Regions from separate parts of the Homo sapiens genome. Here region 2 is linked to region 1. The links come from fine-mapping of genetic effects on gene expression. A gene starts in region 1. The other region holds a variant in brackets. All regions are shown on one strand. Distances are between the middles of the regions. Region 1 holds the start of CST7 (cystatin F). Region 2 holds the start of APMAP (adipocyte plasma membrane associated protein).

What was found. PIP is the estimated chance that this variant, and not a neighbour inherited with it, causes the effect.
Region 2: its variant is fine-mapped to the expression of CST7 in whole blood (INTERVAL, PIP above 0.99).

The regions. Positions count from the first base shown.
Region 1 is chr20:24,946,249-24,951,621 of GRCh38, reverse strand. It overlaps CST7 (cystatin F), which reads right to left and starts at 2,353. Exons shown (of 4, transcript NM_003650.4): 1 at 2,047-2,353. The coding sequence starts at 2,116. RefSeq lists an enhancer at 2,638-2,687.
Region 2 is chr20:24,989,834-24,995,206 of GRCh38, reverse strand. APMAP (adipocyte plasma membrane associated protein) reads left to right here and starts at 2,456. Exons shown (of 9, transcript NM_020531.3): 1 at 2,456-2,613. The coding sequence starts at 2,519. RefSeq lists enhancers at 1,902-2,402, 2,315-2,554, 2,685-2,764, 2,785-2,844, 2,403-2,903 and 1 more. The variant A/G (reference allele first, on the strand shown) is at 2,272.

The DNA.
Region 1 (5,373 bases):
GGCTCTGTAATTTATTCTCAGAGGAGGCAGCGGAGGGGCTGTAGGAGTTGTGGAGTGGGGGCAGGACGCATGCTTGTGTCTGGGGCCCAGGTTCCCATCTCTTTTTTGCTGCTAGACTGGGGGCCTCCCAGCACCCTCCCTATACAGCCGAAGACTGAAGGCCCTTGCTGGAAGCACCAGAAATGATCACAGCGCCTGGGCAGGGTGCTGGGGGCTGTCACCAGCACAGTGGCAGAAGGGCCTGCACTAGACAGAGCAGGGGGCTGAGGCTGGCGGAGAGCACCCCATGCCCCATGTGCCTCCATGCCTGTGCCTTCCCCGAGCCACCTCTGTTCAGCCTCCCCAGGGCCGGAGACGGGGTGCAGTTATCTTCCCATTTCATGGATGGTAGGACTGAGGCTGAGGGCCCGCTCTGTGTGTGTGAACGTGGGCTCTGGAGCTTCTCTCTGGGGTTTGGTGGCTGACAGCAGGTCTGCTGAGAATGGAGGGAAAGGCTTGGTGCAGCATTACATACCAGCGAGGGGCCGGGAACACCACCCAGGAAAATGACGTTGCCAGCTGCCCAGCACATCGGCTCCCACGCCACCCTGTTATAGTCCCTAGCCTGCTCCGTGAGATGAGCAGAGCTCTGAAACCCCTCAGCAGTCAGTAGGTTTAATTAGATCCCAGGACACGCTAGGACAGCTGGCTCCATGTCCCCTCCAGGAGAGCCTTTTCTGAGGTGTGAGAACGAGCCACTTCTCTGGAGTGAACTTGCCTCTCTTCCCTGCTTCCCCCTTGGACCTTGGAGACACGAAGGGGCAGGGCACAGAATGGCAGCAGGCAGGCAGCACTGCATCAGGACAGGGCCAGGAGGAGAGGCCCCTGTGAGGCTGGGAAGCAGGTGGAGGGCTCCTTGCGTGAGCTAAGAAGGCTCCCAAGCTGGGAGGCAGGGCCGGGTATGCTGTCCCCAGCCTTCTGCCAGCCATGGGTCAGCTCCATGTTCGCTGAGCACTACCCAGAGCTGGTGGCGGTGGCATGTTCCCATCAGTGAGAGCAGAAGCTGCCCCCGGCCCCTCCTCCAGCCTGCCGTGTCCCCTTGGCTGCTCAGTCGCAGCGTCCGCCCTAGGCCAGGCCTGGGAGCTCGACACAGTGTCCCCCAGCATCACTGAGTCCTCAGTATCCTGACTCACCAGGAGGAGGTGAGAACCCTCCAAGAACCCCTTGGGTGCTCTGGAGCCATCCTCTTGTCAGTGGTCCTGCTGCACAGCCCCCACCTGGGCCCCTTTGGCCAGGCTCCAGCCCCCTTCTGTCCCTGTCTGCTGGGTGGGGGTCATATGACTTGAGCGGGTCACCTCAGCCCTCTGGTGCCAGCTTCCTGGTTGGTTAAATGAGGTGGGGGCCTCCCAAGTCCCCATCAGTATCCTGGTCTGATTCCTGTGCCAGGGAGGCCATGGCCCAGTTCCCTTTGGGGGAGAGCAGGTTGTCCCTGGCTGTGTGACTTGGGCAAATCACCTAGCCTGGCTGTGTCTCAGTTTCCCAGTGCACAGGCAGTGGCTCTTTCCTCCCTGTCCCCCCTCCCCCTGAGTGCTGACCCTCAGGGAGTGGATTTCAGGAAGGGTGAAAGAGTCTGATCGTTAGGGTCCCTGGAGCCAAGTCACAGGACAACAGCCAGCAGGAAGGAATGACAAGCCATCAGATAGAAGCGGCTAACCACAGGCATGTGGCTGCCCTGTCGCCTCCGTCCCGCAGAGGAGCTGCGGGAGACCTGCCTTACTTAGACCTTTCTCAGACCTCTGTGAAGAGCCAGAGAATAGAAGATGCTTCCCTTGCCCCTAGCCTTCTGGGGCAGCCCCCAAACCCTTCATCCCTGTAGCCTGCTACCCCCAAAGGTAGCTGCAGCCAGATGGAGCCCCTTGCCCCTCTCACCACTCCCAGCACCTCTCACCACCGCATGGTCCTGTGGGGGCTCCAAGCTAGGAAAGTGCCCTGGGGAAGACCCAAGGCACCAGTGGCCAATCTCAGGGAGAGACCCCCGGGGAGCGGACAGGGGAGAACGCCACTTACCTGGGGAAGGGCCCCCAGTGGTGCTCAAGACCAGGCAGCAGAAGGCCAGCAGAGTTCCAGCCGCTCGCATGGCTGCCCGGGTAGGGACAGTGCGGGGCAGTTGGGGGTGGCCGTGCAGTGCCTTCTCAGGCAGCATGGGGCAGTTGGAGGCAGTGGTTGGTGCCCGTGCCGAGCCTTCTTGGGTAGATGGCGCAGGGCAGGTGGGGGCAGTGGTCTGTGCCCGTGCCAATCCTTCTCAGGCAGCACGGGCCAGTGCCGGGCAATGGTTTGTGCCTGTGCTGAGCCTTCTTGGGCAGCATGGAACAGTGGGCTGTCCCAGCCCAGGGGCAGGTGCCAGGGCCACAGCATGGAACCCCACCCTGCAAACCACTGTGGGATGGGGCAGGGGCGGGGCTAGGGGGCTGCCTGCGTGGTGCTGGGGAGGGGAGTGTTTTGCTGCTGAATCATTTTGGCCAGAAGCTCTTCACCTTCAGATCTATCAGCCACAAAGCAACCGCTTCCTTTATAAAAGTTTCCGAGCAGCCGTCATTTGCTGGGGGAGGAGGAAGAGACATGAGACCCATGAGCAAATCCTGATGCAATGTTCTACCCCTGAGCCACACACGAAAGAGATGTTGCATGAAAAACATTAGCAGGAATTTTCAAAAGCAAAATCACTTGATTTTCCTTTTTCTTTTAATTACTTAAGTTCTGGGGTACATGTGCAGAACATGCAGGTTTGTTACATAGGTATACACGTGCCATGGTGGTTTGCTGCACCCATCAACCCATCATCTACATTAGGTATTTCTCCAAATGCTATCCCTCCCCTGGCCCCGGATCCCCAGATAGTCCTTGGTGTGTGATGTTCCCCTCCCTGTGTCCATGTGTTCTCATTGTTCAACTCCCACCTATGAATGAGAACATGCGGTGTTTGGTTTTCTGTTCTTGTGTTAGTTTGCTGAGAATGATGGTTTCCAGCTTCATCCATGTCCCTGCAAAGGACATGAACTCATCTTTTTTATGGCTGCATAGTATTCCATGGTGTATATGTGCCACATTTTCTTTATCCAGTCTACCATTGATGGGCATTTGGGTTGGTTCCAAGTCTTTGCTATTGTGACTAGTGCTGCAGTAAACATACGTGTGCATGTGTCTTTATAGTAGAATGATTTTTGAGTATATACCCAGTAATGAAATTGCTGGGTCAAATGGTATTTCTGGTTCTAGATCCTTGAGGAATCACCACACTGTCTTCCACAATGGTTGAACTAATTTACACTCCCACCAACAGTGTAAAAGCGTTCCTATTTCTCCACATCCTCTCCAGCATCTGTTGCTTCCTGACTTTTTAACGATCACCATTCTAACTGGCATGAGATGGTACCTCATTGTGGTTTTGATTTGCATTTCTCTAATGACCAGTGATGATGAGCGTTTTTTCATATGTTTCTTGGCTGCATAAATGTCTTCTTTTTAGTGTCTGTTCATATCCTTCACCCAATTTTTGATGGGGTTGTTTTTTTCTTGTCAATTGTTTAAGTTCCTTGTAGATTCTCGACATTAGCTCTTTGTCAAATGGATATATTGCAAAAATTTTCTCCCATTCTGTAGGTTGCCTGTTCACTCTGATGACAGTTTCTTTTGCTGTGTGGAAGTTCATTAGTTTAATTAGGTCCCATTTATCAATTTTGGCTTTTGTTGCTATTCCTTTTGGTGTTTTAGTCATGAAGTCTTTGCCCATGCCTATGTCCTGAATGGTACTGCCTAGGTTTTCTTCTAGGGTTTTTATGGTTTTAGGTCTTAAGTCCTTAATCCATGTTGAGTTAATTTTTGTATAAGGTGTAAGGAAGGGGTCCAGTTTCAGTTTTCTGCAAATGGCTAGCCAGTTTTCCCAACACCATTTATTAAATAGGGAATCCTTTCCCCATTGGTTGTTTTAGTCAGGTTTGTCAAAGATCAGGTGGTTGTTGATGTGTGGTGTTATTTCTGGGCTTCTGTTCTGTTCCATTGGTCTATATATCTGTTTTGGTACCAGTACCATGCTGTTTTGGTTACTGTAGGCTTGTAGTATGGTTTGAAGTCAGATAGCATGATGCCTCCAGCTTTGTTCTTTTTGCTTAGGATTGTCTTGGCTATGCAGGCTCTTTTTTGGTTCCCTATGAACTTTAAAGTAGTTTTTTCCAATTCTGTGAAGAAAGTCAATGATAGCTTGATGGGGGATATCACTGAATCTATAAATTACTTTGGGCAGTATGGCCATTTTCACAACATTGATTCTTCCTATCCATGAGCATGGAATGTTTTTCCATTTATTTGTATCCTCTCTTATTTCCTTGAACAGTGGTTTGTAGTTCTCCTTGAAGAGGTCCTTCACATCCCTTGTAAGTTGTATTCCTAGGTATTTTATTCTCTTTGTAGCAATTGTGAATGGGAGTTCACTTATAATTTCACTCTCTGTTTGTCTATTATTGGTGTATAGGAATGTTTGTGATTTTTGCACATTGATTTTGTATCCTGAGACTTTGCTGAAGTTGCTTATCAGCTTGTGGAGATTTTGGGCTGAGATGATGGGGTTTTCTAAATATACAGTCATGTCATCTGCAAACAGAGACAATTTGACTCCCTCTTTTCCTATTTGAATACTCTTTATTTCCTTCTCCTGCCTAATTGCCCTGGCCAGAACTTCCAACACTATGTTGAATAGGAGTGGTGAGAGAGGGCATCCTAGTCTTGTGCCAGTTTTCAAAGGGAATGCTTCAAGTTTTTGTCCATTCAGTATGATATTGGCTGTGGGTTTGTCATAAATAGCTCTTATTATTTTAAGATACAGTTCATCAAAACCTACTTTATTCAGAGTTTTTAGCATGAAGGGGTGTTGAATTTTGTTGAAGGCCTTTTCTGCATCTATTAAGATAATCATGTGGTTTTTCTCATTGGTTCTGTTTATATGCTGGATTACGTTTATTGATTTGCATATGTTGAACCAGCCTTGCATTCCAGGTATGAAGCTGACTTGATCATGGTGGATAAGTTTTGATGTGCTGCTGGATTCAGTTTGCCATATTTTATTGAGGATTTTCACATTGATGGGACATCAGGGATATTGGCCTGAAATTTTCTTTTTGTTGTGTTTCTGCCAGGTTTTGGTATTAGGATGATGCTGGCCTCATAAAATGAGTTAGGGAGGATTCCCTCTTTTTCTCTTGTTTGGAATAGTTTCAGAAGGAATGGTAGCAGCGCCTCTTTGTACCTCTGGTAGAATTCAGCTGTGAATCCATCTGGTCCTGGACTTTTTTTTGGTTGGTAGGCTATTAATTACTGCCTCAATTTCAGAACTTGTTATTG
Region 2 (5,373 bases), 44 kb before region 1:
GTTGAGATAAATGCCCTCCACGTGGGCCAGTGTTCCGATGGAAGTGAGCCTCATCCCCAGTGCCAGGGTTGGGTGTGGGTTTTGGTTGGTCTCACTCAGCGCTTCTCAACCAAGGGCTGTTTTGTCCTCCAGGGGCTATCTGTCAATGTCTGGCAACATTTTTTATCATCACGACTAGGTGGGATGCTACTGCCATCTAGTGGGGGAAGCCCAGGGATGCTGCTGAAACACCAGCGCACAGGAGAGGCCCCCCTCCGCCTCCTAACAGAATTATCTGGCCCAAAATATCAGTGGTGCTGAGAAACCTGATCAAATTAATCATAGTGGTCCCATTCCTCTGCCAACAACTGGCATCAGCACGATGAGAAACAAAGTCGGTCTGGTTGGAAGGTGGGGTGGGAGAACTGATAACTGAAACAAATACAACAAGCAAAGCGTGCTTCACCGTGACTTGAAAACAGAAAAACTGTACTGAACCCGTGCTATGCAGCACAAATGATCTAGCTCAGACCACTGTAACACCAACTACCTACGTGCTTCATGATAAGCCCACGAGCTGACCTCCTGATAACTCCGAATGGACTTACATGTCCCAGAGCTAAGGCCACGGTTCCTCCAGTGACTCCCGTTGTTAACGGATTCTGACCAACCCTGGGCAAGACTATCGATGGACTAACTCCAGCCCCCAAACCCCACAAGGAGTCTCCCATGACTCCCCCATTTTGAGGAACCTCACCGGTCCTCTGGTGCATTTCTTTGCTGCAGCAAGTTCAGTAAACCCAACTTACTGCCATTATTTTTCTTCTGAATGTGTCCCTGGGTGTTTGCAGTGCGTGGGCTTTAACACTGGGCATGGAACACAAATAGCTCCAATGCAGTGAGTTCAATGTTATGGCTGGGACATGTTTAAAGTGCCTTGAAGACAAAGAGGAAGATGTTCTGCTTGGGAAACTGGGAGAAGAATTTTCAGCAAGGATACTTGAAGTGGGTCCTGAATGATAAAAATAATTGGCCAAGTGGAGGTGAAGGAGAGTGTATCACAGGAAGAAGGAACCTCAAGGACAAAGGCAGCCAGGCATGAGATTAGACATGTTAAGCCATCCTGAATGTCTGAAATGGGGGGTGGGGAGCAAGAGGGATAGTCCAGACAGGCAGGAAGGCGTGAGATCATACAGTACTTTGTTAACACTATCCCTGATTTAATAGCTGTATTGGCTATTCTCAATGACACAGAATGAAGTAAAATGTTGTCGAGGCCTGAATTATTACCTGGGATCTCTGGAGAACTGGATTTGCACAGCTCTCCACTTCCCTCAAGCTGGTTCTTCCGCTCTTTGAATGAATAAATAAAAAGCATTCACATGGAATTCTAGTGCCATCTAGCATTTAAAAAGGTAAAAGCCTCCAAGAGGAAATTATTTCTTAACACTGCATTTTGAACATGGCTTTTCCAGAGATAATTCCTCGTGCCACTGGTAACGGGCTTTGATTTCTTCTGCCTGTCACTTCCTCCAGATTCGATTCCTCTTTGAATCTCAAATGCTCTCACAAGATTCAGCTCTTCCCTTTTGAAGCAATTATTACGTTTGATAATTTTACGTCTATTTTATGATGATGATCTGATTAAAGTCATCTTTCCCACTAGTTTAATTTCTATAAGGAGGGGCCTTGTCTGTGATTTGCCCACCATCGTCTCCCAGCACCTGGGAACATTTCTGGTTTCCTGCAATACTGTTGAAAGAACAATGCCTCTCTATGCTTTCTTAAACTTTGTTAGTGATAATTTCTACTTCTACCTGGACTTTACTTAAGGGTAATCCTTAATAAACTTTATCAAAACTTAATAAACTTTATCAAAACTTAATAAACTTTATCAAATGTCTGTTGTAATCGTCACAAAAAGATTTAATACTCAACATCTGGCCTTAACCAGAGGGAAACATTTTCTAGCCCAAGTTTTCCCCTTAACCGGCTGAGTCGGGGAAGGATGTAATTTTCAGGCAGAGGTGACTTCGTTCCAAGGGTGTGAATGCATTATTTTTGACGCTGCCTGTAAGAGCAGGGTCGCTGACACTGAATAAACAGCGCTATCCTCTCCAACGATAAAAGTGGCCAACATCTCGTGCTAGCAATTCCCAAGTGCGTCATGAGCATCCCCGTCCTCAGAAACGTGAGACGAAGGCGGCATGCGCAGGCACTGGGCTAGACGAGCCCGAGGTTGAACCACTCGCGTTCTGGGCCCCGGAGTCCGAGACAGGCGGGGACCCCGGC[A/G]GCTCCCGGTGCTATCTCTGAGCGGGTTCCGAGCCCCACTTCCGGGCGGTCAGAATTAGCCTCAGAGCGCCGAGCAACGACGCGCCGGGGACCTCCCGCCCATGAGGCCGGAAGGGGCGGGGAGAACGCTGCGGAATGGTCCCTGGGCGCAACGTCATTTCCGCGTACGGGGGAGGGCGGGCCTGGAGTCTGAGCCGGCGCCGCTCAGTGTGAGGTGGTTTCTGCGGGTGAGGCTGGCGCCCGTACCATGAGCGAGGCGGACGGGCTGCGACAGCGCCGGCCCCTGCGGCCGCAGGTCGTCACAGACGATGATGGCCAGGCCCCGGAGGCTAAGGACGGCAGGTAGGGCGGACTCCCAGACTGGGCGCTGGAGCCGGGCCGCTAGGAGTGGAGGGCGACCCTCTTGGACAGCGGCGACGGCAGTAACAGTAACCTGGGGATGCGGTGCCGAGCGCGTTGTCAGAGTCCTCTCGTTTCATCCCCAAGAAAAACTCATTTTTCCGAGGAAGCAGGCTCCGACAAGGCGGATGTACCTGCCAGGTCTTTCAGGTTCGGGTGCACCCTGCGCCCAGTCGCCGCGTTGTCCTCGGCTCTCCGGACCCGAGACCGCCTCGCGCCGCTCCTTTGCCTTCCCTCCCTCACTCCTGCCCCACCCTGCATAGCGGTTGCTTCCTCGCCTTTCCCTCGCTCCCCTCGCGCTGTCCTTCCTTTGGCTTAAATGATCCCCCTGAGCACAGCTACTTGGCCGGGGCCCTGCGTGTTCCTGGTTCCCCGCTCGCAATTTCCCGAAGGGAGGAGGTCCCACGAGATGCTGGGGTCCTGCCTCGTTATCCGGCGAAGAGATGGCTTCTACACTTGCTCTTCTGCACCTGCCCCCCTCACGCTGCGTGACCAGTCCTCACCGCGGTTCTTGGAAAGAGTGGAGAACAGTAGTGACATTGTAGGCAATTTTTGTGAGAATTCAGCCTGGCAGTTTTTCCTGATAGGGATGGAGAAACATAGGAAACTGTAGTTGTTGACACCTAAGAAATATCAGGTTTTGCCCTTTGCCTCCTCTCCCATCTTTCAGAATATAAGAATGCTGTGTTTTGTTAGCTAAAAACTGAATCATGATTCGTAAGCATAGATTTCAATATAAGATACTTAAAATTCACTTTTCAATTCTGTGTCCTGAATTTCATAACTTTTAAGTTTCAGGGAGAATCAAGAGGCCCCATAGACCAAGCTTGAAGTTGTGGGACTGATTGACTTATATTTGATAGAAATACTGGAAATATTTGTTCATCAGTAGTGTGCCAAGAGGTGGTGGGGTACATATGAATGAGAGGCAGTTTTTGCCCCTGTAGACTGAGTTTATTGACTGATGATAAGAGGAACACATTTGAAGGAGAGCGATGGCAGGAAGGAGCATTTAGGCTCTAGAGAGGCAATTTAGAGAGAAGACTTTGCGGTGATAGTTGACTCCTTGGGCCAGTGAAAAGATCGGGAAGATGCTCCCATATATCCTGACCAACCATCCTGCGTTGCCCTGGACTGGGGTTTCCAAGGATGTAGAACTTTCAGTGCTAAACCTGGGCAAACTGGGACAATCTGATCACCCTACTTACTGTGAATATTGTGAATTAATCATCTGTTGATGATTGAGGAGCCATTTAGAATGGACATGCAAGAATTGGCAACACTTTCCTACAGAAATCTTGAAAACAAGGCATTTTTACCTGAGAAATGGAAGAGCAGTGGCCTGAGTTTGTCATTAGGTGCAGTGTGTTGAAAACCAGGGCCTACAGCCCCTGAGGGCACCGGTTAGGTAGTCCCAACTCTCAAGTTGGCTGGCTCACACTTCTGGCCCCAGGGCAAGCAGGCAGACTTAATTGTTTTTTTCAGGTTCTCTGTGGGGATTTCTTCCTTAATGAGTAAGTAAATCTGATTCTAAAGTCATCTTTTACTGCCTGATCTTTTCCAGTGTGCCTTTTACATTTATGTTTACTTATTTCCTTGACTTCCCTGTCCATGAACATTGTTCCTGTTTCCCTGTGTTTGTCCTTCTTGTTTGTTTATCCCTTTTCTGTATATCTGTAATGATCTCTTTCAAAGTGAGGTCTTGTCACCACCCTTCCTTTCCGCAATTATTATTGTAACATGGTAGCTGTTTTTCTTATTTTTCTTCTGCATTTCTCCTATATTTTTCATTTATTTTGTGGTCATTTCTAGTAGTTCATGTAATAGTATTCTTGATTACCTTAAAAGTCGAGGGTTCAACATAAGCCAGGAAAGCCTGTGTATAGTGGGCGAAGTAAAGGAATCTAAATTCAGAAGTAAAAACACGAAACTATTAGAATAAACTTTAGCACTTTAGATGTGCTAAATAGAATAAAGGAAGCCTTGAAAGACATATTACTAAACTGACAGAACTAAGACATAGATTTTAGCAGTGGTAGGGACCCCTAGTAATACGTTGGGTGGTCTCCCAACTCTTGGCACAAAAGGTGGGTGTTTGCTTTGTTTTGCTGATGAGATCATTGAGGTCTATGTGTGTGAGGTGGTTTATATGAAGTTACAGAGAATAGAGTCAAAAGAGAAATGAAAATGAATGAAGAAGGATAGAACTGGCAGCTGGACAATGACTGAGAAGTGTATTTTTAAAATTATGCTTTGGAAATAAGACTTTATGCCAAAGCTCTTGAATTACTGTATTTGAAATATAATGGAGAATTTGGTTGGTAAATTCTTTTATTCAGTGTGGAACATAGATGAGCTAAGTACTTTAACATACCGGTGCAAGCTTATAATTATTATTTGACATTGATTTCCCGAAATGCTTTAGAAACTTAATTGTACTCTGTGGAACTATTCCTTTCTGTTTGAAACACAGTTCTATCTAGGAAGAGAACTGTTTAATGTCCATATGTGACTGTTTAGGGATGCAGAATAAATACATTGAGGATTTAATATGTTTCAATACATTAAATTCTGTATAATTCTCCTTTTTCAATAAACTTCTGAAGGATTTTAGTTTAATTAAAAGTCTGCTAGGTCCATTTTCCTTTTTCCTCTTGGAGACTGAAGAGTAAGGGAGGAAGTATGGAGAAACAGATTGGGCAT